Linked DNA regions of Homo sapiens. The protein of the gene in region 2 interacts with the protein of the main gene of each other region in a biochemical or structural test. Each region holds a gene or a part of one and is shown on either strand. Other genes may lie near its edges. The genes, in order: CDC42, PAK1, BAD and CTTN.

Region 1 (8,448 bases), on a different chromosome or scaffold from region 2:
GAATGCCTGAACTCAAGCTATTTGCTCCTGTTGGCCTCTGAAAGTGCTGGGATATAGGCATGAGCTGCTGTGCCGCTGACAGGCTTTCTTGGAAGTAAAAGACTAGTTGTGCTTTTATTTATAGATGTATTTTAAATGCACTTCTCTATTGTTTTAGAGTTTTTTTTTTTTTTTTTTTGAGAGGATGAGAAACAATGAGCACCTTAGGCTACAGGGCTTCCTTTGAAGGGGAGAGAGGGTTAAATATTGTGTTAACATATCTTCCATGAAAATATCTCTCTGTATTAAAAGGCTTCATTCTGGAATTTTATGGTAATGCCTTATTCAGTGTTCTCTTCCACATAGATTTCCTCATTAGATTGTAAGTTCTGTGAGGGCAGGGCTTTGGCCTGGCATGGTCACCCCATTGCTAATGCCTAGAATACTGCCATACATACAGTAGGTTTTAAGAAATATTTTTTAAGTGAATGAATTTGATGATGTCTGAGGGTTAACGTTTTCCCTAATATTCCATGGGCCTTTTTGCTGTGTTTCCTGAGACAGCTTTTGTGCTTGGTCAGCCATATCTTTATTTGGGCTCATTGAAGTAGTGATTACTAATCTACTCTTGCTTGACTTTTTCCATCTGTTTAGGTCAGTATCTTCTGCAGCTGCACTGTCTGGACAATTTACCATCACTTAGAAAATCTGTGATGACTACTAGTTCTCTTACTCTCCTAAAAATTATTCACTTAATGTTTGTTTCCTTATCTTCCTTTATTTCTTTGTTTGCAAATAACTTTTACCGCTTGTTCACTACTGTATCAGATTCCTGGTCATGTTATGCTTTGTGTCTTACTAGTTTCTACTTTTAGTTTCTCATACCTTCAGTCCAAAATATTTTTACTAAAGCAATTTTCATTACTTGCCATTTCAGCTACCTCTGCTGCTGCTGCTGCTATTTTAAGTCCTGAATGTCAAAACTCTTCTGGGACATTGATCTCAAACTGCTTATTCCGTGAAGTGAAACCAGGCTTTCTGCCACCAATGTGGCGTCCCTTTTTGCAATTTTAGAAAAATATTTTTTAAATCAAAGATTTGGCATTAGCCATTATACTAAAGTCCAGAACAATTTCTAATAGAGCAGAAAACTATATTGTTCAGCCATGGTATTCACTAAGCACTGGTGCTCTATCACCTTAAGACAAAGTCTGATTTAGGCTCTGTTACTGTTGTTCTGTAATGCTTTACACTTTAACCTTGCATCCTTTTCTGTAAAATTAAGCCATTGCCATTTGCCATTTCAATTCTGCTGTGTGTTCTTGATTGGTATATTGCTACTATAATGATTAAAAGCATAGACTCTGGAACCAGACTGCCTGGGTTCAGATCCTGGTTCTGCCACTTATTAGGTATGTGCAGTCTAAGTAACGTCTTTGTGACTCAGGTTTACTTCCTCTAAAATAGGGGTAGCAGTAGTGCTTACCTAACAGGGCTGCAGTGTTAGGAAGATTGAATTAATATATATGAAGTGTTTAGGACTGTTCACTGGCACATAGTGAGTGCTGTATAGATTTTTGCTCTTGGCACAACTGTGAGGACCCTTCCCCGCCATCTTTGAGAAGCTGTGTTTCTCTCAAACATAAACATTTTAATAACCATCCTTCTCCCGGACTAATCTGATGAATCCAAAAACATTTCTTTTTTCTTTTTTGAGATGGAGTTTTGCTCTTGTTGCCCAGGCTGGAGTGCAATGGCGCGATCTCGGCTCACCGCAACCTCCGCCTCCTGGATTCAAGTAATTTTCCTGCCTCGGCCTCTTGAGTAGCTGGGATTGCAGGCATGCGTCAGCGCCCCTGGCTAATTTTGTATTTTTCGTAGAGATGGGGTTTCTCTATGTTGGTCAGGCTGGTCTCCAACTCCTGACCTCAGGTGATCCGCCCGTCTCGGCCTCTCAAAGTACTGGGATTACAGGCATAAGCCACTATGTCTAGCCCAAAAACATTTCTAAATGAAGTGGAGATTGCTTTACCTTTTTTTTTTCTTTTTTTTTTGAGACAGAGTCTCGCTCTGTCACCCAGGCTGGAGTGCAGTGGCATGATCTTGGCTCACTGCAACCTCTGCCTCCCGGGTTCAAGTGATTCTCCTGCTTCGGCCTCCTGAGTAGCTGGGATTACAGGTGTCCGCCACCACACCCGGGTAATTTTCGTATTTTTAGTAGAGGTGGGGGGGTTTCACCATGTTGGTCAGGCTGGTCTGTAACTCCTGACCTCACGTGATCTGCCTGCCTCGGCCTCCCAAAGTGCTGGAATTAACAGGCGTGAGCCGCTGCATTCCGGCCTCCTTTACATTTTTATCCGTTACCTTTACCGTTGTCATAGAAGCAAGGGTGTCAGGCCTCAGGTATGCAGTATAGTCTGTGGACCCATCAGCATAAGTGTCACCTGGGAGCTCATTAGAACTATCAGGATTCATCCCAGTCTTACTGACCCAGAATCTTATTTTAATAAGATCCCCACATGATTTTTATGTGTATTAAGGCTTGAAGCACCCTCTTCAGGACTGCTAGAGTGATGTCTCAAATTTCGGAAACAATGTGAATGCTTTATTTCATTTTATTTTCCTATGGAAGCATAACCTGGTTTATTTTAGGCAGTGTACCACAATTTATTGCAAGGATCATAATCTGAAAATGAATCTGAAGCATATTTAGTTTTTAAAGGAATTGTTGCTTCCTGCCTATTACGTAGAATTGCCTCATGTCTGCCCATTATCAGGAACTAATGTGTTATTTAAAGTTTTTTTTTTTTTTGAGATGGAGTTTTGCCCTTGTTGCCCAGGCTGGAGTGCAATGGCATGATCTCCACTCACTGCAACCTCCACCTCCCGGGTTCAAGTGATTCTCCTGCCTCAACCTCCCGAGTAGCTGGGATTACAGGCATGTGCCAGCATGCCTGGCTGATCTTGTATTTTTAGTAGAGATGGGGTTTCTCCATGTTGGGAGTTTCTCCATGCTGGTCAGGCTGGTCTCAAACTCCCGACCTCAGGTGATCCACCCACCTTGGCCTCCCATAGTGCTGGGATTACAGGCGTGAACCACCGCACCCAGCCGAATTACGTATTTTTTAATTTTATTTTTATTTTTTAGAGATAGAGTCTTGCTATGTCACCAGGCTGCAGTGCGTGGTGTGATTATAGCTCACTGTAACCTTGAACTCCTGGGCTTAAAGGATCCTCCAACCTCAGCCTCCCAAGTAGCTGGGATTGCAGGCACGCACCACCACACTTGGCTAATTGTAAATATATATATATATTTTTGTAGAGAATGGGGCCTTTTTATGTTGCCCAGGTTGTTCTTGAACTCCTGGCCTCAAGTGACCTCCCACCTTGGCCTCCCAGAGCTGTGGGATTACAGTTGTGAGCCTCTGCACCGGGCCTTAATTTTTTTTTTTTTTGAGACGGAGTTTTGCTCTTGTTGCCCAGGCTGGAGTGCAATGGCGCAATCTCGGCTCACCGCAACCTCCGCCTCCCAGGTTCAAGTGATTCTCCTGCCTCCACCTCCCTAGTAGCTGGGATTACAGGCATGTGCCACCACAGCACGGGGCCTTAATTATACATTTGAACTTAAGTGACATTTTATTGAAAACTAATTGTGGTGACGAGGAATGGTCTAAGCATATGATTAGGATAATTCATATTCATTATGAAAACTTAGGTGAAATACAGACTTGGCATTTAGCTTGTCAAATGTAAACATGTTTTCTGCTTTCTTTGCTAAAATCATATTTCCAATTTCAAGGGAAAATGTTAAGAACCAAAATCATCTTTTTCAGCTACCCGCCTGAAAAAATTATTGCTATTTTTCTTTTCTTTTTTTTGAGAATTCTCGCTCTGTTGCCCAGGCTGGAGTGCAGTGGTACGATCTTGGCTCACTGCAACCTTGCCTCCCAGGTTCAAGCGATTCTCTTGCCTCAGCCTCCCAAGTAGCTGGGATTACAGGCGCACACCACCATGCCTGGCTAATTTTTGTATTTTTAGTAGAGACGGGGTTTCACTATGTTGGACAGGATGGTCTTGAACTTCTGACCTCAGGTGATCCGCCTGCCTTGGCCTCCCAAAGTGCTGGGATTACAGGCGTGAGCCACGGCTCCCAGCCTGTTATTTTTCAAGGGCCAGATTGAATTTATTTCTCTGATATTTCCTTTTTCCTTCTTTAACTATATGGTGTAGGAGAAATTCTCCAGGACTATCCCTGAGAGCTGGGGGATCAGTGTCTCAGGAACACCTGTGTTTATTACCTGTGTCCATTCTCTGTGTCTTAAGTGGCCATTTGAAGCCATCTACGTCCTTTTCAATTGAAAGATTATCAGTAGGCTGGGTGCGGTGGCTCATGCTTGTAATCCCAGCACTTTGGGAGGCTGAGGCAGGCAGATCACCTGAGGGCTGGAGTTCAAGACCAACCTGGCCAACATGGTGAAACCCCGTCTTTACTAAAAATACAAAAATTAGCCATGGTGGCATGCACCTGTAATCCCAGCTACTTGAGAGGCTGAGGCACGAGAATCGCTTGAACCTGGGATGCAGAGGCTGCAGTGAGCGGGGATGCACCACTGTTCTCCAGCCTGGGTGACAGCTGAGACTCCGTCTCAAAAAATTAAAAAAAAAAAAGATTATTGCAATTCATTACTCCATGTGGAAGGAGGAGAGGTGTCTGAGAACAGATCAAATGAGGAACAGATGATTAAACCAGAGGGAGATGGAGGTGGAATAAAAGAATATTATGTTAATTAGTGTTAAGGGGTATGAGAAAAGAGGATAAATTTAGTAGAAGAAAGCATAAACAAGATTTCAGCTATGGTTCATTTGCTTTGCTGGAAGACAGTTTAGGAGTATTTGTAATATTTTTAGTTTGTTTTTAATCTATATAAAAGCAGATGAAGAGGAGTGGGAAGTGAAAGAATAATGTTACTTGAATAACACTTATCTCTGGTTTCAGGGATTTTCATTACAACTTTACTAGTATTTGTTTCATTAGCTGAATACTATTGGAGAAGAACTCAGTTTTAGATAAATTCTGAAATGGAATTAATACATTCATATCACTTGCTTGCCTAAAAAACATTTTTATTATAGGGTTTAAGATTAACAAGATTTTAAAATAAGTGATTAGATTTTAGAATGTGTAAAGTTTGGTTTATAACTTGAAAGGATAGTTCTATGGATATCAGTGTTTTTTTATTTTGCTATTTTATTCGTGCTGTTTATTTGCTCTGTTCATCATAGGGGCAAAGGAAATGTTAGATCATCCTAATAGTTGATAAGCTAGTAAAGATGAGGGTAGGGGATAATTTTAGAGTAAGGCCTGTGTGGCTTAGTGTGTTTCAGAATATCTGAAAGACATTTCCATGGGCTTGGGTGTCAGATAAATTAGAAACCCAGCCGGGCAGAGTGGCTCACGCCTGTAATCCCAGCACTTTGGGAGGCCATGGCGGGCGGATCACCTGAGGTCAGGAGTTCGAGACCAGCCTGGCCAACATGGTGAAACCCCGTCTCTACTAAAAATACAAAAAATTAGCCAGGTGTGGTGGCATGTGCCTGTAATCCCAGCTACTCAGGAGGCTGAGGCAGGAGAATCGCTTGAACCCGGGAGGTGGAGGTTTCAGTGAGCCGAGATTGCACCACTGCACTTCAGTCTGAGTAACAAGAGCAAAACTCTGTCTCAGGAAAAAAAAAAAAAAAGAAACCCTTTATTATATCTTCATCCTGGAAATCATAATGTATATAAGTTTATTTTAAAGGGTTAGGGAAGTTAGACGGTCAATCAGTTTAACTTCATGTTTCTTTCTTTTTTTTTTTTTTTTTTTTTTTTTTTTTGAGATGGAGTCTTGCTCTATCAGCCAGGCTGTAGTGCAGTGGCATGATCTTGGCTCACTGCCACCTCTGCCTCCCGGGTTCAAGCAATTCTCCTGCCTCACCCTCCTGAGTAGCTGGGATTACAGGTGCCCGCCACCATGCCCGGCTAATTTTTGTATTTTTAGTGGAGATGTTGGCCATCTCCACTTTAGTGGAGACCGTGTTGGCCAGGCTGGTCTCGAACTCCTGACCTCAAGTGATCCGCCCCCTTCAGCCTCCCAAAGTGCTGGGATTACAGGCGTGAGCCACTGCGCCCGGCCTAACTTGATGTTTCTTAAACTTGTTTGATGACGTTTCATCCTCCCCATCACCCCTATGGAACACCCTTTTTTATTTTATTTATTTCTTTTTTTTGGAGAACGGATTCTTACTCTGTCACCCAGGCTGGAGTGCAGTGGCGTGATCTTGGCTCACTGCAACCTCTGCCTCCTGGGTTCAAGCAATTCTGCCTCAGCCTCCCGAGTAGCTGGGACTACAGGCATGTGCCACCATACCCAGCTAATTTTTGTATTTTTAGTAGACACGGGGTTTCACCACGTTGGCCAGGCTGGTCTCAAACTCCTGGCCTTAAATGATGTGCCTGCCTTGGCCTCCCAAAGTGTTGGGATTACAGGCGTGAGCCTCCATGCCTGGCTGTTTGACCCATTTAAAAAATGGCTTGTGGTTTATAAGACAAATTGTTTGAGAATCTGAATGTAGGTACTTCTACCTCATCAGCTAGAACAAAGAAAGTCTAAATAATCATAGTTTGTTTTGTAGTTGGCATCTCACCTCATAACTTTTAAAAGAAAGGTTCTGAATTTGTCACGTTTGCTGCCTAGGTAATGTAGTGACTTATTTTATGCTGCAAATGTCTGCTTGTTTAGGATTTCTGATATAGGCTGGCATGATTTCATTCTTGTAGACTTACGACCAAATTACTCTGTGCTGATTCTGAAAAGATTTGTCTTTTTGGTGCATGTATAAGAACATAAGTTGCCTGATCTTAAGAGTTTTTTTCTGATTGGGTATGGTGGCTCATGCCTGTAATCCCAGCAGTTTGGGAGACCTAGGTGGGAGGATTGCTTGAGGCCAGCAGTTTGAGACGAGCCTGGTAGCCTGGTCAACATAGTGAGACCGTGGCTCTATTTAAAAAAAAAAAAAAAAAAAAAAAAAAAAAAAAAAAGATTTTTTCCGAACTTATCCATTTGTCTATGGTACAAACCTATCCTCTAATTTTTCAAACCAAAAAACGTCTTTATAACTTTGTCCTTAAACACTCCACCTCCAACCTGATGACCTATTCTCTATTTCTATGCTACTACCGCAGGGCAGATCCTCCATTTCAATCTTAGATTATTACCCTAGTTTCTTAGCTGACTTCCTTGACTATCTGGTTGTCTTTGGCAGCCCACCTTGGAATACAGGCACAATATTGATACTCCTAAAACACTGTTCATGGATATGGAAGAAGTGACTGTTCTGCTTAGCTTTTAGAGTCTATATGACTTGGACTCATAGTTTTTTTTTGTTTGTTTCTTTTTTCCACTTTGCATGCTTGCTTGTGCCTTTTCTCCTGATACTCCTATCTAACTAGAGATTTATTTTCACATTATTTTAGATTACTCTCCCATGTTTACTCTGAAAATCTGTGGCACTCATATTTCATAGTGTAAAATTGTAGCAATCTGAGACTACTACAGTTGTTAGCCTCTTCTCCTTATAACCAGTAAAGTATACTAGATGATGTATGATGAACTTTCTAGCATAGAATTTGGTACAGAGTAGGCATTTAGTAAATTATTGAAATGTGTTAAAGGCCTTTGAAGGCAAGATTTCTGTTACCCAGTGTAATGCTGTAGTAGGCATTTAGATATCTTACTTAGATAACTTTTGTAATAAGTTAATAGGATTTCGTTCTTCCAAGAACCTACTCTATTTTAACAGATGTTTTAGGTCCTAACTTGTGTCCTAATTAGATAGAGAGGGTCTGTTAGGTGCTTGGGATCTTGTTCTTCAACTGCACACATACCAGCACAACTACTGTTAAATTTCTTTTGCGCTTTTTTCCCCTTTAGGACAAAAAAAGGATTTAACAGTTATGTGCTTTTAATAACATTGTATTACTTTGTTGGTAACCTTCACAACTTTTTTTTTTGAGACAGAGTCTTGCTCTTGTCATCCAGGCTGGAATGCAGTGATGCCATCATGGCTCACTGGAACCTTCGCCTCCCGGGTTCAAGTGATTCTTGTGCCTCAGCCTCCCGAGTAGCTGGGATTACAGGTGCGAGCCACCACACCGGCTACTTTTTGTATTTTTAGTAGAGATGGGGTTTTGCCATGTTGACCAGGCTGGTCTGGAACTCCTGACCTCTTATGATCTTCCTGCCTTGGCCTCCCAAAGTGCTGGGATTACAGGCGTGAGCCACTGCGCCAGGCCTTCACAGTCATCTTTAGTATGTATAACATTTCATCCTGTGGTGTATTATTACTTGTTTTTTTTTTGTTACATTAACTGTTTTGATGATACAGCATCTCATTGTTTCTTGATAAAGTATTTCCTTCTTTTTGGATAAA
Region 2 (4,026 bases):
CTCAGTAGCTCTTTATACTATCTCTGTCCCAACAGAAGTTGCAGCAATTCTCAGCAAAGAATATTAGTATATATGTTTCTCTCTCTTTCTCTTTCTCTCTCTCTCTCTGTCTCTCTCTCTCTCTGTGTGTGTGTGTGTGTGTGTGTGTGTATACATATATACAATATGACTAATCAAGGGAATTGTAAGTATGGCAGAAGAATCAGATATGCTCATGTGAGTTGAGTAGTTATGTTTAGAGGTCAAATCTGGTTCTCAATTTCCTGGTAGCCAGGGCAGAAAAGGAAATGTGATAGCTCCTATATTTTTTATCAAATAGAAGAACATCCTACAGCTTTAAGACACAAAGCTTTTTTACTACTAAATGTTTAAAAAGAAAAAAAAGCACCATTTTTAAGAGGCTCTGAGAATTACATAAGGAATTGTTAGACCAGGCACGGTGGCTCATGCCTGTTATCCCAGCACTTCGCGAGGCTGAGGCCAGTGGATCAGTTGAGGTCAGGAGTTTGAGACTAGCCTGGACAGTATGGCAAAACCCCGTCTCTACTAAAAATACAAAAATTAGCCAGGTGTGGTGGCGGGCGCCTGTAGTCCCAGCTATTCGGGAGGTTGAGGCAGGAGAATTGCTTGAACCCAGGAGGCGGAGGTTGCAGTGAGCCGAGACCGCACCACTGCACTCCAGCCTGGGCAACAGAGTGAGACTCCGTCTCAAAAAAAAAAAAAAAAAAGGAATTGCTTTCTGTAACAGTTTTACTGAAAATTTAGATGCAATTTTCATATAATATTTTCTCCTAAATAGTCATTAAATGTTGAAGGTATGGCCCAAAGTACAGCCCAGTGAAAGTGATTTGGGAAAGGACCAAGCTACTGAACTTTTTACTGAATGATTAGCATTATTGGATTTGAGGATAGAACAATAAATTCCTAGATCAATGCTCCTAAAATGCAGTATTGCGATATACTACTGGGTCATGATCTATTAATACCTTCCCCAGAGGTAATTATTATTCTGATTATCACCATGGTTAGGCTTACCTCGGAAGAAATGGAATAATACAATATGAACTTGCTTGTCTGGCTTCTTTCCCTTAATGTGTCTGTGAGATTCAACCCATTTGTCAGTGTACCAATTACTTATTGTATTGCTGTGTAATTTTCTGTATAGTATTATATGAATATAACACTATTCATTTTTCCATTCTCTTGGACATTTGGGTTCTTTCTGGTTATTGGCTATTATAAGCAAATCTTTTATGAACATTTCTGTGTATGTCTTTTGGTGGCTATACAAACTAATTTCTCTTGGGAATATACCTAGGATTGGAATTACTAGAGTATAGGTAGATGTATTTATCTGTAAGTAGATGCTGCCAAACAGTTTTCCAAAGTGGTCTGTTTTAAGATGTCCTTCAATTTGGGGATGATCAGAAGCTTTCCACACAGCACCCTTTACAAACAAAGATGCCTTTATGTCTTGTAATGGTTACTGGGGAAGAATGTTAAATAGTCATGTGTCTTTTGCTATTTTTCTCCTTTCTAGCATCAATTCCTGAAGATTGCCAAGCCCCTCTCCAGCCTCACTCCACTGATTGCTGCAGCTAAGGAGGCAACAAAGAACAATCACTAAAACCACACTCACCCCAGCCTCATTGTGCCAAGCCTTCTGTGAGATAAATGCACATTTCAGAAATTCCAACTCCTGATGCCCTCTTCTCCTTGCCTTGCTTCTCCCATTTCCTGATCTAGCACTCCTCAAGACTTTGATCCTTGGAAACCGTGTGTCCAGCATTGAAGAGAACTGCAACTGAATGACTAATCAGATGATGGCCATTTCTAAATAAGGAATTTCCTCCCAATTCATGGATATGAGGGTGGTTTATGATTAAGGGTTTATATAAATAAATGTTTCTAGTCTTCCGTGTGTCAAAATCCTCACCTCCTTCATAACCATCTCCCACAATTAATTCTTGACTATATAAATTTATGGTTTGATAATATTATCAATTTGTAATCAATTGAGATTTCTTTAGTGCTTGCTTTTCTGTGACTCAACTGCCCAGACACCTCATTGTACTTGAAAACTGGAACAGCTTGGGAATGCCATGGGGTTTGATAATCTGCCAGGGACATGAAGAGGCTCAGCTTCCTGGACCATGACTTTGGCTCAGCTGATCCTGACATGGGAGAACAACCACATTTTTCTTTGTGTGTGCTTCTAGCAGCTGTTCGGGAGGACCTTGACCCAATAGTGTTCCCATGCTGTTTCTTGTGAAATGCTCTCGGCTATGTAGCAGCTTTTGATTCCCTGCATACCCTAGGCTGCTGCCCCTATCCTGTCCCTTGTTTATAACATTGAGAGGTTTTCTAGGGCACATACTGAGTGAGAGCAGTGTTGAGAAGTCGGGGAAAATGGTGACTACTTTTAGAGCAAGGCTGGGCATCAGCACCTGTCCAGCTCTACTTGTGTGATGTTTCAGGAACTCAGCCCCTTTTTCTGCCTAGGATAAGGAGCTGAAAGATTAACTTGGATCTTCTAATGGTCCAAATCTTTTGGTCACAATAAAGAGTCTCCAAATTAGAGACTGCATGTTAGTTCTGGATGGATTTGGTGGCCTGACATGATACCCTGCCAGCTGTGAGGGGACCCCGTTTTTAAGATGCATGGCCAAGCTCTCTGCAAATGGAAATGCTTACACTGGGTGTTGGGGATGTTTGCTACCTCCTGCTATTTTTGTGGTTTTGGTTCTCCCACTATGGTAGGACCCCTGGCCAGCATTGTGGCTTGTCATGTCAGCCCCATTGACTACCTTCTCATGCTCTGAGGTACTACTGCCTCTGCAGCACAAATTTCTATTTCTGTCAATAAAAGGAGATGAAAATATTCTATTGGAGTATGCCTTTCTTTTTTCTCTTCGTTTTTTCTTTCCTTTTCTAATTTTTTATATGAAATAATGAGTAGTTTCTTCCTGAACCATTTGAGAGTGGTAAGTTGCAGATAGAATGCCCCTTTACCACTATATACCTGAATGTGTATTCTTTCTTTTTAACACTTTTATTTTAAATATAAATTAAGAGAAATGGGCCAAAACCATTTGTATTGTTTAAAGAATAATTATAAACACACTTGTATCCACCAAATCAAGAAATGGAACACTGACAGTAAGAACCTTCTCTATCTTGTCCTTCCTTTCTCATTATAGCCCCCACCTAAGAGGTAACCACCATCTTGACTTTTATTTAAATAACTTTCTTGCTTTTCTGTATACTTTCATCACATTCAGGTGTGTTCCAATACAAGTAGATTTTAGTTCGGCCAGTTTTTGAACTTTAAATAAACATATCATAATAGATATATTCTTTTGTGCCTGTTATTGTTTCCACTCAAGATTATGTTTTTAAAATATATGTACCTAGTTTGTGTGTAGCTCTAGTTCATGTATTATTCCGGCTGTAGGCACTTGAGAGGAAAGTTAACTTGTCCAAGATGAATTCCCTGAGGACTGGCCTCCCAAAGGATTTGGTTTTCTGCAGAACTCTATCATAATGGACTACAGCCAACTGCTCAAGGCAGTCATACCTGGTAGAATTCTCAGGTGGCTAATTAGGCCATGGGTCTATCACATCCTACAGCTACAACCATAAGGCTTGAGCCCCAGCTCTGATCACACCAGAGAAAATGCTTCTCAAAGATGGCACAACAGAGCTAGAGGCCAGTGTTCTGTCGTGTGGTTTTACTATTGGATCCCAGCACCTAATACTACTAGAGAAGATGTAGTGCTTCTTAGGTGTGCAAAATATAATCCCCATGGCTCAATGCCTGTAGTCCTTCTCCGGAGTATGATATCTGGGCCCTACTACATTTCTTTGCCCCAGAAGGTGATGGGCATTAGAGTTTCCACACTCTGGATAATGTTCCTATAACCACACGTTTCCACCAATAAAGCAGGCTCCAAAAGGTCTGGAGTGGATACTGCCTCATCAGCTGCACACTTCATAATGGCAGCAGTAACTGTGTATTATGGAAAC
Region 3 (9,441 bases), about 13 Mb from region 2:
ATCCCAGCATGGCACTGGTGCCAGCATCCACTCTCCCACTGCCTGAACACCCAGGCCCTGGCTGGTCCTGAACTTGCCCCGCCCTGTTCTCACCCACTTGACAACCTGTGACCTCTCCAAAGACCCTCTGGTGCCTGCTGGGGTCCTCAGCCCTCATGCTGGATGGCTTTCAGCCTGGGCTTTGAGGCTGACCACCCGCTACTGGTAGGGAACCTGAACAGGTTACCAAACTCTGGAGTCTCCCTGTTCCCACTTACAGAAAAGGGATGATTAATCATCACTTCGGGGTGCTGTTCTGGGCATTAAGGAGGCCAGTGTTTAGAAATCCTCAAAACAGAGCCTGGCACACACAATAAAGTGCCCCACAAACGTTAGCAGTTTTTATTTCAACAAAAAGTGATTGTCCAGCTTCAAGCTGATTCTCTATGAGTCTCAGATGCCCTCTCTGGAGGCCCTGAGGGCCTGGTGCCCAGGATGGTCCCAAGTAAAGGGTTTTGAAGCAGGCCCAGTGATAAGCCAAGGGAACTCTGAAAAGCTGGGACAACCACCTATGTGGGCAGGGGACAGACCCTCCAGCAAAGGACTCCTAGCCATCAGACAGACCTGCCAGGGCCATGGAAGCAGAGGGCAGTGACTATGCTACTAAGGACAGTGGAGAAGAGGGCTAACGGGAGGGCATAGCTAGGGGACCACCTGTACATCTGGGCAAACCCACGCCCTGGTAGGAAGATGGGGGCTGCTCAGTCACTGCGCCAACTCCCCAGCAAGCCCTGGACTAACTCCTGACTCCTAAAGACCAGGTTGGGGTGGTGATAGGGAAACAGGGCCTCCAGAAAGTCTAATCCATTGGGGTTAAGACTCAGAAGCTGCCAGGCATGGTACCTCATGCCTGTAATCCCAGCACTTTGGGAAGCTGAGGTGGGTGGATTGCTTGAGCCCGGGGGTTCGACACCAGCCTGGGCAACATGGTGAAACCCCACCTCTAAAATTAAAAATTAAAAAATTAGTCAGGAATGGTGGCATGTGCCTGTATTCCCAGCTACTCGGGAGGCTGAGGCAGGAGGATTGCTTGAGCCTGGTAGGTTGAGGCTGCAGTGGGCCATGATCGTGCCACTGCACTCCAGTCTGAGTGACAGAGTGAGACCCTGCTTCAAAAAACAAAACAAAACAAAGAACCTCAATGGCCACATAATCAGTAATGTGGAGCTGTGGGGCCCAGCAGAGGGGCCATGTCCCTTGACCAGGAGACAGAAGGCTTCCTAAAGGAGGTAACAGTTGACGCAGGTCTTGAGGAAAGAGTAGCAACTGTTCAAGTGGAGAGGGATCTGGAGGTAGTGGGGCAATTCTGGGCCAGGAGAGCTTTGAGAACAAAGGCCTGTGTGGTCTCCTTCCCTTGCAAACTGCAGGCCCCTCCTCTCCCAGCCCACCAGCCTTGATGGGGTAAGTCACCCCTGCCCAGCCTAGCAGCCCACTTCAAGGGCTAGTGTCTGTTCAGCCTTAGGCCAAACAGGCAAAAGTGATAGGAACACAAGGCAGATGACAGACAGGTGCACAACTGTGGGGCGCAGACACTGTTTATTGAGTGGCAGGCACAGGAGAGGTAGCTGGCTCCGGTGTGGAAGCAGAGGTGGCAGGTCATGCCAGGGTGCTGTGGGCATCTGGCAGCCAGGGCCATGCCCCCCATCCTAGGGGGACGGCACAAGCTCACTATGACAGGAGCAGCAAGGAGCCGGCCAGAGGAGGGGGTAGCCACGACCCCCAGGATCCTGGGCAAGAAGCGGCAGACAAACTTGGCACAGGGGCCTAGGGTGAGGGGGACTGGGGCCTGGGTATTCTGTGGGGGAGGGAGGGGGATCACGTCTGTGGGGTGGAGTAGAGACTGTGGTGGTGGCCGCCTGGTCCTGGCACCTGGGAGAAGAGCAGAGGAGTGGTCTTCGTCTGGCTGCCCCCATACCAGCCCGGCTCACGCCCGATGGCACCATACCAGCTCCCAGAGCCTAGACTGCCCGACATACTGCAGCAGAGAAACAGGGTCAGTCTCAGGACAGTGACCAGGGCCACAGTCACAAGAGCTGCAGGAGGAAGACAGGCTTAGAACAGAACCCCTGTGACCTAGACCTTCGGGGCCCAGGACAAAGTACATCTCTAGGCAAGAGGTGGAGGCTTTAGCAATAGGAACCCAGGGGACCTCACCTAGTACAGATGGGGAAGCAAAGGCCATGGCAGGGGTGGAAGGCAAGACCCGGCTATCTCGGTCCCCCATAGCTTGATGGAGCCAGCGGGGTGGGCGGGTAGGGCAGGGGTACTGAGGCAGTGCCACGGCTCCTACCTGGTGCTCTCACCCCGGCTGTGCTCCCAGGAGCAGCCCTCATCTTCACAGTGCCCAGCCCGGTCAAAGAAGTAGGACCGAGAGGCAAAGACCTGCCCATTGAGGATGTGGCTGGTGCTCTGGGGGAGGAAGCCATCATCGATACTTACTCCTGTCCTGCACTGGCCTCCCAGGCCCAACCCCAGACTCCAACCCAGGATTTGCAACATCCGCCCCCTCCACTGGCCCCACAGAAGAGGGAGCAGACCCTTACCAGGTCCTGTGGGGGCCGGTGCACCCGGAAGAAGCCCACCAGCAGGGTGGTGGGCAGTAGCTCCCACACGAAGAGGATGAGGCCAAATACCAGGTAGCCTTTGTTCCCCAGGTCATTCACCAGGTCCGCCTGTGGGAAGGCAGGGGCTGGTGCCAGTCTGCAGTCACGCCAAAGGGGTAGTGGGACAGGGCCCAGGCCAGCTGGGGCCAAGGTGCCACGGCTACTAAGGAGGTGGCAGACATGCGTATGCCCACCTGGTCAGACACATTGTACCAGTCGTAATCGAAGGTGTCCAGCCGGCTCTGGGGGGCCAAGGCCAGTGCTGTCAGGTTGTAGCAGGCCCGGCTGGCATAGAGCAGGACCATGGCGCCACCCATCGCGGCCGCCTGGCACACACTGGTCCCCTGGCACAGGTAACAACAGAGGACCCTCAGGGAGAGAAGGCTCCCAGCTTCCTCTACACCCTGAGAACCGCTGCCGAGAGACCCAAAAGACACCTGGGCATCAGTGCTGCAGCCCTACCTTGGCCTCCAGGTAGATGCTAGTGGAGGGCGCCCGCCTGGCGACGAGGCAGAGGCAGGCAGCAAGAGACAGCGCGCAGATGACGAACAGGGAGTCGCTCACCAGGACGCGGACAAGCAGCAGGGCCCAGGGCTGTGCCCGGCGCCGATGGGAGAGCACAGCACACAGCACGTTCACCAGCAGAAAGAGCAGCGAGGCCCCCACAAAGGCCCCTCGGACAGCGAGCCTGCAGCCACAGCACAGTCAGCGCGGGCCCTCAACAGCCCTCAGCACTCACCACCTGCCCCACCTCCTGCAGGAAACCCCAATGTCGACAAAACTCAGGGCATCCAGTCTGAGCCCTGTTCCTCCACTCTTACAGATGGAGAAACTGAGGCCCAAAAAGGTCAGAAGGTGACTGACAGCCATGGTACTTCGGAAGGTGCACCAACTGGAGTCAGAAGTCTCTGTCTGAGCCCCAGCTCTGCGACCTTGATCCTGCTGTCTTACCTGGCTGGGCCTCAGTTTCTTCATCTCTCAAGGGAGGATAGTAGCCTCTCAGGGAAATTGTACAAATAAAAGATGGCTGGGAAAGCTCTTTATAAACCGTAAGACACTGTACAAATGACGAGGGCATTGCGGCCCCAGGTCACCCAGGAGTGCATATGGCTTTGGTGCTTCCATGGGCTGGAGCCTCCAGCTCGCCCTCCATGGTGGATGACACTGGGGCCCTCTCCCTCACACTACCACAAGCATTCCTATTCCTGTGCCTTGCAGATCTGCAAGGCCTCTGCTGAGCCATCTGCGCCAGGTGCTTTAACTTTTCCAAGATCTTCCACAGACATTCCCTGGGTTGCCTTTGTCTCAGCCCTGAGAGGTGGGAAGGGATCTACATGGGACTGTCACCTGCCCCTGACCTGGAGGCTGAGCCCACCAGTGTCCCGAGTACTTACAAGCCTCGGCTCATCTCCGGCCGACGCTTCACCTTGGCCTTGAACACCACCTAGGAGCAGAGATGCCCTTCACTCCTGTGGGTCCTTGAGGCTTGCCACCTCCCGCCCCCCACCCGGGACCACAGTTGGTTACCTGGGCAAAGTAGAGGTTCATAAGCGTCAAGGTGAAGAACTGCAGGCAGACGGGGCAGCAGTAGAGAAGCCAGAAGGGCAAGGGCCCCAGGCGGTTGGCGCGGGGAGTATCTCGGAAGTAGAAGGAGAAGAGGGTGGTACGCAAGGCGGCCCAGAGCAGACAGAGGGCCAGGAACACCGTCTGATAGCTGAGACGCTTGTGCCCATACAGAAGCACCAGCCAGAGCTGGGCATAGACGGAGAAGAAGAGCAGGGCATACAGGGTGGTGTAGGCAGCTGTCAGCCCCAGGGTCACAGCAGGTGGCAGCGCAGGCACCAGCCCGGCAGCAGGCACCAGGCCAGACAGGTTACTCTCCATGTCAGGGAGGGAGGCCTGAATCCCGGAGACAGACAAGGAGGGACTGTCGGCGGGACCAGGGAAATAAATACGGAGGGGTGGGAATTGCAGGGTGCAGAGAGGGAGATGGGGCGCTCAGGAGGAAAGAAGTTGTGGCTGACAGGCCCCTCCTCCTCAACAGAGAGACCCTTGCCCTTGGGGAACACAGGCAGCCTGGGCCCCAGGCCCCTCACTCAGGGGCATGGAAGGGCAGTCTCTTTTCTCCAGGACAGACCGGATAGGGGTTGGGGGTGTCTCCTCCCTGGGCCTACCCCAGAGCCAAGGATGGGGGGATGCAGAGGCCCAAGGAGAGGACTCCCTGGCCTCGGTCGTTCATGTCGTCCTGGGTGGAGGGGGAGAGCCGGCTGATACCCGTCGGGTCAGGGCAGCGGCCGCTGCGAGGGGCGCCCAATGCCCCGCTCTCCCCCTCCCCAAGCTGGGGGAGGCTCTCTCTCCTCCAATAATGCGGATGGGGAGGGCCTCTGCCTCCTGTCCTCGTAATTCTCGAAAGCTGCCCCCGCCCCACCCTCCCCCACCGCGTCCACGCTCCAGCCTCAAGGGGAGGGAGGAGGCGGACGCCAGGTCCTCAGGCCGCTGATGGGAGAGCCGGCTCAGGTCGTGGGGACCCGGGGCTCCGGCTCCCCGGCTCCCGCTGCTCCGCCCCCCTCCCCCTCCGCGCCTGCGCGGGCGCCGTTCGCTACGCAAATTGCGCAGCGGCCCGGCTGGCTCCGCAGTCCAGCGCCGCACCCGGCGTGAAACCGTACGAGAATTGGCGCGAGCTGCGCCGCTGGCGGGCGCCCGGGGTTACGGGAGGCGGCAGGAGGGCGGCCGAGTTGCGGGGGCCGTGCCGCATCCAGGGGGTCCCCGGGTGGGCCGTGCCCCGTGCCGCCCGCCTTTACTTGTATGGGGGTCCGCCAGTTCCCACGCTCCTCTCTCCTATACCCAAATCGGGGTCGTGCCGCCCGGCCGGGGGCGGCAACGGATTCCCGTCCCTCGGTCTCTGAAGAAAACTTCCGCCCATAGCCAAGATGGCCCCCGGGCCCCGCCCCCGGGCCTGAACCCGCGGAGCCCCGAATCCCCCGCGCGGGCCCGCCCCTCGCCCCGGCGCGCCCGCGGCCCTGCTCACCTGGCCGGCCGCCTGCCAGGCGTGAAGCCCCCACGGGCCCTACGGTCCTCCCTCACCGGGTCCCCGGCCCTCCTCCCGCGCCCGGGCAGCCATCCCAGCCAGGGAGGAGGTTCCTTTCCTTATCTCCAGTGCCCCCGAGATGGCGCGGGAGGTGTCCCCCGAGGCGGGCGGCGCGAAGCTTCCGCGCCTGGGAGGAGGAGCGGGGAGCGGGACTTTCCGACCGGGCACCCAGTCCAGGCGGAGCGGTAACAATAGCAACAATAATCACATCCGACGGCTGAGCTTCAGTTGTGGCTGTGCCAAGCGCCTTCGCCCGCAGTAATCACTCCCTTCACAAAGTTTTCACTGGCTCCCGGGGGAGCTGTCACTATCCCCACTTCACTGGGGGGAAACTAAGGCCCAGAGGGGCTGAAGGACTTGTTGGCAGAAGTGGGTCTCCAGGTTCCAAATGGGGACCCCAGAGAATCCCTCTCCTGCTCCCACACACGCCCAAGGTGTGAGGCAGCGAGGATGTGAGCCCCGGGGCCGAAGGAGGGAGGAAAAAGGATGCGGACGAGGAGCCTTGGATCCGGCGGGGGGGCGGGGCCGGGCCGGGTTGACCCCGCCTCTGGACCTACCCGAGTGACGTTCCGAGAGGTGATTGGGCCAGGTCGCTGACAGTTCCCGTTGCCCAAGCAACTAGGGCCCGGAGCCCGGGGTGCTGGAGGGAGGCGGCAGGCCCGGGTCAGGGGCCTCGAGATCGGGCTTGGGGTGAGACCTGTGCGCCGTCACCACGGGCGGGGCGGGGCCTGGGTCCACCGGGGTTCTGAGGGGAGACTGAGGTCCTGAGCCGACAGCCTCAGCTCCCTGCCAGGCCAGACCCGGCAGACAGATGAGGGCCCAGGAGGCCTGGCGGGCCTGGGGGCGCTACGGTGGGAGAGGAAGCCAGGGGTACCTGCCTCTGCCTTCCAGGGCCACCGTTGGCCCCAGCTGTGCCTTGACTACGTAACATCTTGTCCTCACAGCCCAGAGCATGTTCCAGATCCCAGAGTTTGAGCCGAGTGAGCAGGAAGACTCCAGCTCTGCAGAGAGGGGCCTGGGCCCCAGCCCCGCAGGGGACGGGCCCTCAGGCTCCGGCAAGCATCATCGCCAGGCCCCAGGCCTCCTGTGGGACGCCAGTCACCAGCAGGAGCAGCCAACCAGCAGCAGCCATCATGGAGGTAAGTACCCCACCACCTCCACCTGCCGGGACACCTCACCCCCAGCCCACTGGCTCCCTGCATCCCAGTTGCATCCACAGGCACTGAATGCTTTGGGTCGGTCCCCAAACTCTCAGAGCCCCAGTTTCCTCTTTCGTAAAACAGCAATTAATAACCACCATTGTAGGACTGTTGAGTTAATTAGCAGGAACATATAGGATGCACTTGATTACAGAGCTGGTGCACATTAAAGCTAAAAAATGGTTGCTGCCGGGCGTGGTGGCTCACACCTGTAATCTCAGCACTTTGGGAGGCCAAGGCAGGAGGATCGCTTGAGCCCAGAAGTTCAAGGCCAGCCTGAGTGACTTAGGGAGACTCCAGCTCTTAAAATACATATATATATATATAGCAGCTATTAGTGTGGGGTTAGGACAGAAATCAGTGACAGGCAGGCAGTGATCCGAAAAGGAAAAGGGGCCTGCCTAAGGCCACACCTTCCTGGTGTTTCTTTCCTTAGAATGTGGGGGCTGGAAGCCTCCTTGGTGCCCTGCCCCAGGCTACATGCTTTCCCTGGGATTAGGCCTTCCAGCTCCCAGATGTGTTCTTTCTTGCCCTGTGGCTCGTACCCACAGCAGGACTGTCCTGGCACAGTGGCCAGGGGCAGATGACCTCAAGGGGCAGACAGTCCTCCCAGACAGCAGGGCTGTGTGGGGTGAGAAGCACAGGCTCCAAGATGGAAGGATGGACACTGGGGTTCTATGTCCATTTCTCAGTAGGCTCTAGCACCCCTGTGCCCAGCACTGGCCTTGGCACCTGGAACAACAACAGATATCTTCTGAACACAAAAACCAGGTCAAGCTGGGTGGGGTGGCACATGTCTGTAGTCCCAGCAACTCAGGAGGCTGGCTTGAGCCCAGGAATTCAAGACCAGCCTGGGCAACATAGCCAGACCCCATCTCTAAAAATAGAAAACTAGGTCATGTCACTCTGGCACTGCAGCTTAAAAGACCTCCTCCCCATTTTCAGGATTAAGAAGGCTTAAGAGGCCTCTTTCCCCTCGCTCTCTTACGGATAAACACCCACACTCGATTCTCTCAGATTGGACCCCATAGCTTGCTTTCTTTTTTTCTGTTTGTTTTGTTTTGTTTTGAGACAGGGTCTCGCTCTATCACCCAGGAGGGAGTACAGAGGTGCGATCTCAGCTCACTGCAGCCCGGAACTTCTGGGCTTAAGTGATCCTCCCACGTAACTGGGAATACAGGTGTGTGGACCACACCCAGTTAATTTATTTTTTACTTTTTCTTTTTTTTTTTTTTTTTTTCCTGAGACGGAGTCTCACTCTGCTGCCCAGGCTGGGGTGCAGTGGTGCAATCTCGGCTCACTGCAACCTCTGCCTCCTGGGTTCAAGCAGTTCTCCTGCCTCAGCCTCCAGAGTAGCTGGGACTACAGGCGCGTGTCACCATGCCGGGCTAATTTCTTGTATTTTTATTAGAGATGGGGTTTCACCGTGTTAGCCAGGGTGGTCTCCATTTCCTGACCTCGTAATCCACCCGCCTCAGCCTCCCAACAGTGTTGGGATTACAGGCGTGAGCCACCATGCCCAGCATTTTTCACATTTTCATGAGATGAGGGCAGGGGCGGGGTCTCCTTTTGTTGCCCAGGCAGGCCTCAAACTCCTGGGCTCAAACGATCCTCCTGCCTCAGCCTCCAGAACAGCTGGGACCACAGGTGCATGCCACCACACCAGCTCATTTTTTATTTTTTGTAGAGGTGGGGTCTTGCTTTGTTGCCCAGTCTTGTCTCGAATTCCTGGGCCCAAGCAATCCTCTCACCTTGGCCTCCCAGACTGTTGAGATTACTGGCGTGAGCCACCATGCTCAGCCTCCACAGCTTTCTTTAACTTCCTGAGCTTGCACTTGGCCATTTTTCTGCTCACAAACTTCCCCTGCTCTCTGCCCCCCACACACACTCAGCATTCACTCGCGCCACACAGTGAGTGCTCACCGTGTGACACAGGCTGTTCCAGTTGCTAGGGGGCCTCGGTGAACCCAAGCGTCAGGAATCCTTGCCCTTGTGGAGCTTACCTTCTAGTGAGCTGGTGGGGCCATGAGCAAACAAGCACAAAAGCATCCTATCATGCGTGAGAAGATTTGTATGGGGGCAGCATGTAAAAGAGTTAAGAGAGGCCGGGCGCGGTGGCTCACGCCTGTAATTCCAACACTTTGGGAGGCCTAGGTGGGCGTATCACAAGGTGAAGAGATGGAGACCATCCTGGCCAACATGGTGAAACCCCATCTCTACCAAAAATACAAAAATTAGCTGGGCATGGTGGCGCGCACCTATAGTCCCAGCTACTCGGGAGGCTGAGGCAGGAGAATCGCTTGAACCCGGGAGGCGGAGGTTGCAGTGAGCCAAGATCGTGCCACTGCACTCCAGCCTGGCGACAGAGTGAGACTCATCTCAAAAAAAAGAGTTAAGAGAATCCGGAGTCACAGGGGCGGGGGGAGTGATGGTAGCAGAGGTGGTCAGCACTCACCTTGGTGAGAAGCACCACTGGAGCCAAGGCCACAGGGATGATGGGAAGAGAGTTCCA
Region 4 (8,448 bases), 6.9 Mb from region 2:
GTGACTGCCGTGAGCCACTGAGTCAGGCCTTCCAGATGAGGAGAGAGGTGTTGGTTCAACCAAACCACTGGCCATTTGACCAGGGGCTTCGTAGCAGCAAGGGCCAGGAGACAGGCGTGTTCTGTGTGGTTTCTGTGTTTCATTTGTGGTGGTGTTTTTGGCCGGGGTTGGGAGGTTTTTTGTTTGTTCTGTTTGATGACACCATATGTGTGTAACATCTCCACACAGAGCCACACAGTATGTACGTGAAGCCAGCTCTGCATCCTTCCTTAGAGCAGTTATGTTGTTACCTTCAAAATTTGGACTTGGTTATTAGAACCTGAACACATAATTGGAAAAACAGTAATTCCCTAACCTTGCAGGGAAGACTCTAGGCTTTCCACCTGCAGCGTTAGAAACACACAGCAGTGTTCAGGTGTGGGCAGGTAGACACACCTGGGGTGGTCCCGCAGACTGCATGGAGATGGCAGTGGCTCTCCGTGGCATCACTGCTGCATGACAGTGTGACTTTCATGTGGATCTGTGTTGCTGCAACGGAAGTCTTTGGCTGGTAGAATTTCCACATGGATTTTTTTTTTCTCTTAAAAAGCAAGAGAACAAACTGCGATTGAGCCTCTTTTTAGCGCTCAGTAGAGCAGGCGCACAGGAAGCAGATGAGAATAAGCCCGTGCTGGTGCGGAAGACTGTGCTATTGAAGTGGCGCGTTGCAAAGGCCTGTCCGTGCCCTCTTTCCTCGCTTAGCTCCTGCCTGCTGCCCGCCGCCCCTCCTGCCCCTCCTGCCCCTCAGGGAATGCTGAAGCCTCTGCCCCTGGCCTGTGCTCTGCTTCTCACTGCCTGTGTCTCACGACCATGGGTGGAAGCAAAACTTGCCTTGCAAGTGAAGCCTCGCTTGGCCATTCTCGTTTCTTCCCGCTGTGGTGCACCTTCTTGGGCTGTTTCTGGATCTGTCTGCATGCACCCACGGCCACCCCCATGCTCGCCTCCACCTCAGAGTAAGTGTTGTGTTTTGCCACGTTTCAGACTACTCCAAAGGATTCGGCGGGAAGTATGGGGTGCAGAAGGATCGGATGGATAAGGTAAATATTCCAGCCCCGGAGCTTAGTGTCTTCTGCCTGCAGGGGCTCTTGGTGGGCGTGGCTCACCGTGCTGGCCAACATCCACGCGCTGGGGTGGGGCACAAGTGATTTCCGTCGTGGTGGTGGTGGTGGTGGCGATGACTGACTCGGACAGTCTTGTGCTCCTCATGGCCGTGCTGTGGGATAGGCGCTGGCACCGGCCCACCTCCTAACTGGGGGCCCCAGGCCAGGCAGGCTCAGCACCTGGCTGCAGCCATAGGAACCCAGATGTTTAACATGAGAGGTGAGAGCCTCGAGGGCTCATGTCCATTTGAACTTAAATTCTTAATAGTAAATCAGATTGGAACCTGAGTGTGTTAGACTGCGTGTGGGGCTACCTCGCTGGCAGCCAGCGCTGCGTGTGCGGTGATGAGCCATGTCTCCCGTCTTCAGCCTCGTAGAGACGCGGGCTCCACACTGCCTGCTCCTGCGCGTGGCCTGTGGTCAGGGGTGGCAGGGTCAGTCCTTGCCTCGCAGCTGACCACACAGCACCATCCAGGGGCGTAGGCAGGCAGAGCAGGTGTTCGGGCTGGGCTCCCCAGGGAGCAGTAGCCTGGGCTCATTTCTGAGGGCAGGCGCGAGTTCACCAGGAGAGAAGGCTCAGGAGACCACGGAGGGGCGAGGTGTGGGCCTGGGTGGGACAGGAGTCACTGCAGGTTCTCAAGGAGCCTAGCTGCAGAGGGAGGGTGGGGAGCGGGGATAGAGCTGGCCCTGGAGAGCCCCACACACCACAGAGCATTCTGCATGTCGTGACATGCGTCACACACCACAGAGCATCTGACGTGCGTGGCCCCAGAAAGGTTAGCAGGCAAGGAACACTGGGGGGGTCTACTTTGAGAAGCCCCCGGCCTCAGCGTGGAGTCTGGGTTGTGGGGGTTGGCCTGGGCAGAGGGGTGTGGTCCTGAAGAGAGCTGGAGGGGCTCGGGTGGTGGAGAAGCAGGGCATGGTGTTTGGCGCCAAGGGACGCAGGGGAGGGAGCAGTCGGGTGGATGTGGGGTGGACGTGGGGCCAACTGTGGAGCCGAAGAACTGGGAGGAGCAGATGTGGGTGTCAGCGAGAGAGAGCTGGGGTAGGGCCGGGGCCGGGTCCGGGTGGCGTGCAGAGTTGGGAGGGGAGTAGGCACGCGGTCAGAGGACACTGGGCAGGGGGACCCAGTGAGGTAGCAGGGGCCTTGCAAGGCACTGGGACAGACGGAGGGAAGGAGCTCCCCTGTGGGTGAGTCAGAGGTTGTGGCTTTGAGGCCGGAACCTGAGGGACTGCCTGTGTTGTGGGTGTCTGTGGTCAGCATTGCTGGTGTTGGCGGTGACCGCTGAGCTTGTGAGCACGTGAGGAGGCAGTGTGTGGGTGTGGCCTTTCGTGTCATTGTCTTTCATCCAGGAGGGGGTGGAGCTTCTCTCTCTGTTTGCTGTGTGATGGAGGAGTCCAAGGCTTAGAGAGGGTGACGTAACTGCCCGGGTCCCCATACATTGTGGGGATAGGGCTACAACCCAGGCTGGGAGGTGAAGTTGCCCCCTCAGGGCAAGGTGATGTCTGCAGAGGGCCCAGTGGGTGATGGGACCCAGTAAGGCTGATGGCCTTGCCTTTGAACAGGTGCAAGCAGCTCAAGGGACATGGAGTAGACGCTGGAGCTGACTGATGGGAGGAGGGAGCGGGGTCCGAGGAAGGACAGGCGGGCCAGGAAGGGGGCAAGCAGGAGGTGCTGGGCAGAAAGGGGCCATGGTATGGGGGCTCTGGTGGCTTCTGAGCCTCAGGTGTTCTCATCAGAGGTAGTGAAACCCACAGTGAAACTGGGTACGGCCACTGGTCTCCATGAGCCCTGACAGTCTCCACCTGAGTCAGCACGTAAGAGTCATCGCCGTCGCTTGGTCAGACCATAGTTGAGTCCCCTGCAATGCAGAAAGGTGTGATTGCACCACTGGGTAGTGTGTAGGACGGGCCACTGGAGGCTTGCATGTGTCCCCAGCGTCTTCGCTTCCTGTAAATGCTCACACCTCTGGGTGGCGACGGAGGGTGGGGAAGGCTTGAGGCTGATCCCAGAATTGGTTTGTGGTAGAGCAGATGGAGATACATGCATTTCTTATGCTAATGCTGACCCACGATTGCCTGCAAATGTGGTTGGTAATAGTTTTCATGCCTCAGTTAGTTTGCAAAACCGAGAGGCCATGAAGAGTGCTCTGGGCTGTGTGGCTGGGCCTTTGGGAAGATCTGGGGAAGGCATTTGCATCTGGCAGGAGCTACCACAGGGCATGGAGAAAAGAGAAAAGTGCTCTCCTGACGCCCATGTCCTGTCTCTGCAGAATGCGTCAACCTTTGAGGATGTCACCCAGGTGTCCTCTGCCTACCAGAAGACAGTACCTGTCGAAGCTGGTGAGTCCCGGCTGATACCAGGAGCACCGTGTGGTTTCCCAGGAAAACACTGAGGGGAAGGACAGTTGTGAAACAGCCAGGAGCAGATGCACCACTAGTTGAAAGCGTGGTTGTTGCTGCGTATTTTTGGGAAAGAAAATGATCGTTCTGATGAAGATCTTGTTTCTCCTGCAGAGGTTTAGAGTCACCTTTTAGACGCAGCATGGTGCAGCCGTTTCAGTGGGGCCCGTTTCAAGGGGCTCTTCCCAGAGCAAAGGGGCTAAGTGCACATTCACAAGGGCCTCCACACTGCCAGTGACCAGCTTCTGGGAGCAGCTGGGGCCTGCCCAACTCCCTGAGCCGCTCGGTCGCAGCTGTGACAGGAGGAAGACATCATGACGTCGATGTGCAGGCGACAGCAGACATTCTCTCTGCTGCTCGTTCTTGGGCCCTTGACAGGGAGCTCGAAACCTGTCCTTTTCTGTGCTGGACACACGATGGAGTCAGATGTGGGCCCTGCCCCGGAGAGTCAAGTAGTTGGGGAAAATGTTATACATACATGAGAGCAAGTGCTAAATTTAACACAGGATGCAGAGAGCCACCACTGACTTCCTTCAGGGGCTATGGACCCACAGTTCTCAGAGATTGAGGGCCCAGGACGCTTTGACACTTTGACCACTCGTGAGAACCCCCAAGATGTTGATGTATTTGATGACATTGACTATATTAGAAATTAGAGGAATGTGGCCCGGCACAGTGGCTCATGCCTGTAATCCCAGCACTTTGGGAGGCCAAGACGGGCGGATCACGAGGTCAGGAGATCGAGACCATCCTGGCTAACACGATGAAACCCCGTCTCTACTAAAAATACAAAAACAAAATTAGCCAGGCATGGTGGCGGGCGCCTGTAGTCCCAGCTACTCGGGAGGCTGAGACAGGAGAATGGCGTGAACCCAGGAGGCGGAGCTTGCAGTGAGCGGAGTTTGCGCCACTGCACTCCAGCCTGGATGACAGAGCGAGACTCCGTCTCAAAAAAAAAAAAAAAAGAGAGAGAGGAATGGTTTATTTATTTATTTATTTTGAGACCGGGTCTTGCTGTGTCATCCAGGCAGGACTGCTGCCTCAGTCTCCTGGGCTCAAGCAGTCCTCTTGCCTCAGCCTCTGGAGTAGCTGGAACTATAAGCGCATGCCCCCTGCCCAGTTAAATTTTTTTTTTTTTTGAGACAGAGTATCACTTTGTCGCCCAGGCTGGAGTGCAGTGGCGCGGACTCGGCTCACTGCAAGCTCCGCCTCCCATCCCGGGTTCACGGCATTCTCCTGCCTCAAGCCTCCGGAGTAGCTGGGACTACAGGCGCCTGCCACCACGCCCGGCTAATTTTTTTGTTGTTGTTGCTATTTTTTAGTAGAGACGGGGTTTCACCGTGTTAGCCAGGATGGTCTCGATCTCCTGACCTCATGATCTGCCCGCCTCGGCCTCCCAAAGTGCTGGGATTACAGGCATGAGCCACTGTGCCCGGCCAAATTTTTTTATCTTTAGTAGAGATGAGGTCTCACTGTGTTGCCCAGGCTGGTCTTGAATTCCTGAGCTCAAGTGATCCACCTGCCTCGGCCTCTCAAAGTGCTGGGATTACAGGCATGAGCGACATTGGAAAGTTATTAATTGGTTCACTTAAAAAGAATAAACCTTGGCCGGGTGTGGTGGCTCATACCTGTAATCCCAGCACTCTGGGAGGCCGAGGTGGGTGGATCACCTGAGGTCAGGAGTTTGAGACCAGACTGGCCAACATGGTGAAACCCTGTCTCTACTAAAGATACAAAAAGTAGCTGGGCATGGTGGTCCACGCCTGTAATCCCAGCTACTCAGAAGACTGAGGTACGAGAATTGCTTGAACCTGGAGGCAGAGGTCGCAGTGAGCCTTGATTGCGCCACTGCACTCCAGCCTGGGCGACAACAGCTAAACTCCATCTCAAAAAATAAAAATAATAATATAACTGGCCATGCACAGTGGCTCATTCCTGTAATCCCAGCACTTAGTGAGAAGACCGGCATTGTTTTGTTTTGTAAATCTCTTTAATAGAAGATGGCTGCACTCTCACATCTGCCTCTGCAGTCTATCGATGTTACGTTGTTTAGGAAGAACATGTGGAATCACCTAGGTAGGCGATTGGGAAAGGGAGGAGTGTTTGTAACCTTGAGGGCAGCGTGGGTGTCCTTCTGCGACGCCGCCCAAGCGTGCCAGGCAGTGGTGGTCCTGCAGGCCGGCTCCTCTGGCCCTGTGAGGGACTCGCTACCCACTGTGCTTGGGCAGCACTGTGTGTTGGTCATTTGGAAAATGCTGGGTCTCTGAGTTGTGCTCGTCTTCCAGTTGTGGACACTTCTCATTCCACAATACCAAAAAAAATCACATTTGCTGTCATCATCTATTTCATCTGCAGAAGCTGAGTGGAAATCAGCATGTTCATGTGGCAGCCTCACATTTTTCAAAATTCTGTCTTTTACTTGAAAGCTGGAATTTTCCCGTTGGCAACAAATACTCCAGTAATTTTTCTTGACACAATAGGCTTAGTTCATTCACTTGGGAGAAAACTGTTGCCAGATACCCAGCTTTGCATAACCATAGTTGGACTGTCAGTTGTTATTTCAGGGAAAAACGCTATTCCATGAGAAAACAGTCAACTTGCAGCTCTCATGGTTCTATTCATGGTCCTTGAGACACAGACAGCCACCGCCACAGTCCCGGACACAGCAGGGAAGGCTCATGTGTCTTCCCACTTTTTTTTTTTTTTTTTTTTTTTTTTTTTTTGAGACAGAGTCTCGCTCTGTCGCGAGACTGGAGTGCAGTGGCACAATCTCGGCTCACTGCAACCCCTGCCTCCCAGGTTCAAGCGATTCTCCTGCCTCAGCCTCCCGAGTAGCTGGGATTACAGGTGCCTGCCACCAAGCCCAGCTAATTTTTCTATTTTTAGTAGAGACAGGGTTTCACCATGTTGGCCAGGATGGTCTTGATCTCTTGACCTCGTGATCCGCCCACCTTAGCCTCCCAAAGTGCTGGAATTACAGGTGTGAGCCACCATGCCCGGCCATATTCCCCACTTTTGACTTAAATTTTTATCATTTTTTCTTAATAGACACGGGGTCTCACTGTCTTTCCCAGGCTGGTCTCAAACTCCTGATCTCAGTCTTCCCGTCTCAACCTCCCAAAGTGCTGGGATTACAGGCATGAGCCACTGCCCTCTTTTCCATTTTTGTCACACACAATATAAAAAAATGTATACTCTGGTTGAGATTTACTATACTCAGTATACGTCAATTACAGTATACATCAGTACCTTAACTGCTTTATCAAGGACAGATGTCTTTAAGGGAAATTGGCTGTTTTTATTTAAAAAGGTGAGTGTGGTGGTGAAGATACCGTCTTATTTAGAGATCTTCCTGATGCCAGGCTTAGGGGGATTGCCAGTCCCACCAGGTACGCAGTGCCCTGCGGCAGGTGCCCAGTGCTGGCTCCGGACCAGTGGGCTGAGCTGGCAGCTGCAAGAACCTTTCCCTCCTTGGGGGTTAGGGGGATGACCGGTTCCTGGGGAGGTCACTCTGTGTGGGTGGGGCTGTTGTCCAGGAGCAGTGTTTTTGCTGTGCTCAAGGCACACGTCCTCCCTCCTTCCTCTATAGTGACCAGCAAAACAAGTAACATCAGAGCTAACTTTGAAAACCTCGCTAAGGAGAAAGAGCAGGAGGACAGGCGGAAGGCGGAGGCGGAGAGAGCCCAGCGGATGGCCAAGGAGCGGCAGGAGCAGGAAGAGGCCAGGAGGAAGCTGGAGGTGAGTGGCAAGGAGTGGGCCGCAGCGCACCCTCCCTGGGACCTGTGCCGAGGGGATTGGGAGCTCTGGGGCCTGGGCGGGGCTTATTCTCTCCTGGCCAGGTTTTCCTTGGAAGGCATGTTTAACTCTCCTTTAAGGCTCTCCATTAAGGCACTTGTCACTTGCAGCCACACATAGGCTGAGTCTCTGGCCACAATGCTCCAGGCAGCCGGCTAGCGCTATCCTGGTCTTGCCGGTCCAGCCCCAGGACCCGCCAACCTGCCCTGCCCTCTGTCCCTGAGCTGACGGCAGAGTCTTGTCGGCTTCCACCTCCACGGGGCTCCTGTCCAAATGTCAGCCTGAGTCTCTTCTCACCCCTCCCCCTCTGGAAGCCCCTCCTTTCCCAGGTGGAAGTTTGGGGTTTGGAGGGGACTCTGTGCAGAGGCAGCCTGCTCTCGGGGCCTGCTTCTGCTTGGCCAGCCCAGCCCCGCTCACCCAAGCCCCTGGGCTGTGGAGAAGCGCTCCCAGAGAAAGATGCCAGAAGTGCACCCCTGGCAGGGGCGGAGCACGAGCCTGTGTCTGGGTGCTTTGGGTCTAGCCTGGGTGGCTTGCCACTGACAAGGACTTTCCTTGTGCTCAGCTGGATCAGGGGGGTTGTGAATAGAGCCTGAGGCCTACAGATGTGTGTGTGTGAAGTTACCAGGTGTGGTTCTGCAGCTGGGGCATCTGCAGTGTGGGGCAGGCCCAGCCTGTCTGGAAGCCTGGGCTTCTCCTATCCACCCCAGGCCCTGCCCCTGCAGGGCCACACAGGACGTGCTACTTTGGGTGTTTAACCTGTGGATGGCATCAGGTGACGTGGGAATTTACAACTGTCCTGTTGGGGTCAAGCAAGGCCATAGATGCCAGGAACCGTGCTAGGGTCTCAAGACCAGGGGTGGTTTTCTCTTCAAAAAGACAAGACAGCACTACCATTGTTCCCGTTAGAGCAAGGCCGCCTGCAGAGGGAGAGGAGGGAAGGGGTTTGGAGTGGACACCTGGGGTTCAGATCCTGCCTGGGCAGCTCCCTGGCCAGTGTGCCTGTGCCTGCCACCTCACCCTCAGACTCAGCGTCTGGCACTGGAGCCCACAGGCTGTCAGTGAGTTTCCTGTTGCTGCCGTAGTCACCACCACACACAGCACACAGCTAGTG

Evidence for each region.
Region 1: the proteins of PAK1 (region 2) and CDC42 form a complex in vitro, tested with the Homo sapiens proteins (11 studies listed by BioGRID and IntAct, with this or other methods).
Region 3: of the proteins of PAK1 (region 2) and BAD, one has a biochemical effect on the other in vitro, tested with the Homo sapiens proteins (3 studies listed by BioGRID).
Region 4: of the proteins of PAK1 (region 2) and CTTN, one has a biochemical effect on the other in vitro, tested with the Homo sapiens proteins (one study listed by IntAct).

Annotation. Positions count from the first base shown.
Region 1 is NC_000001.11:22,055,709-22,064,156, forward strand, and holds part of CDC42 (cell division control protein 42 homolog isoform 1 precursor), read left to right. Parts: intron 1-8,448. UniProt on the Homo sapiens protein: Plasma membrane-associated small GTPase which cycles between an active GTP-bound and an inactive GDP-bound state. In active state binds to a variety of effector proteins to regulate cellular responses. Involved in epithelial cell polarization processes.
Region 2 is NC_000011.10:77,320,875-77,324,900, reverse strand, and holds the end of PAK1 (serine/threonine-protein kinase PAK 1), read left to right. Parts: intron 1-1,540; coding exon 1,541-1,627; 3' UTR 1,628-1,746; coding exon of another isoform or gene 1,747-1,764; 3' UTR 1,765-2,884; downstream 2,885-4,026. UniProt on the Homo sapiens protein: Protein kinase involved in intracellular signaling pathways downstream of integrins and receptor-type kinases that plays an important role in cytoskeleton dynamics, in cell adhesion, migration, proliferation, apoptosis, mitosis, and in vesicle-mediated transport processes.
Region 3 is NC_000011.10:64,281,610-64,291,050, reverse strand, and holds the start of BAD (bcl2-associated agonist of cell death), read left to right. Parts: upstream 1-6,385; 5' UTR 6,386-6,420; exon of another isoform or gene 6,421-6,674; 5' UTR 6,675-6,682; coding exon 6,683-6,869; intron 6,870-9,441. Other genes in the region: integral membrane protein GPR137, read right to left, coding at 1,686-1,908, 2,330-2,448, 2,583-2,711, 2,837-2,986, 3,105-3,330, 4,037-4,086, 4,170-4,541. UniProt on the Homo sapiens protein: Promotes cell death. Successfully competes for the binding to Bcl-X(L), Bcl-2 and Bcl-W, thereby affecting the level of heterodimerization of these proteins with BAX. Can reverse the death repressor activity of Bcl-X(L), but not that of Bcl-2.
Region 4 is NC_000011.10:70,421,920-70,430,367, forward strand, and holds part of CTTN (src substrate cortactin), read left to right. Parts: intron 1-589; coding exon of another isoform or gene 590-633; exon of another isoform or gene 634-1,020; coding exon 1,021-1,076; intron 1,077-3,412; coding exon 3,413-3,482; intron 3,483-3,777; coding exon of another isoform or gene 3,778-3,860; exon of another isoform or gene 3,861-4,168; intron 4,169-7,131; coding exon 7,132-7,280; intron 7,281-8,448.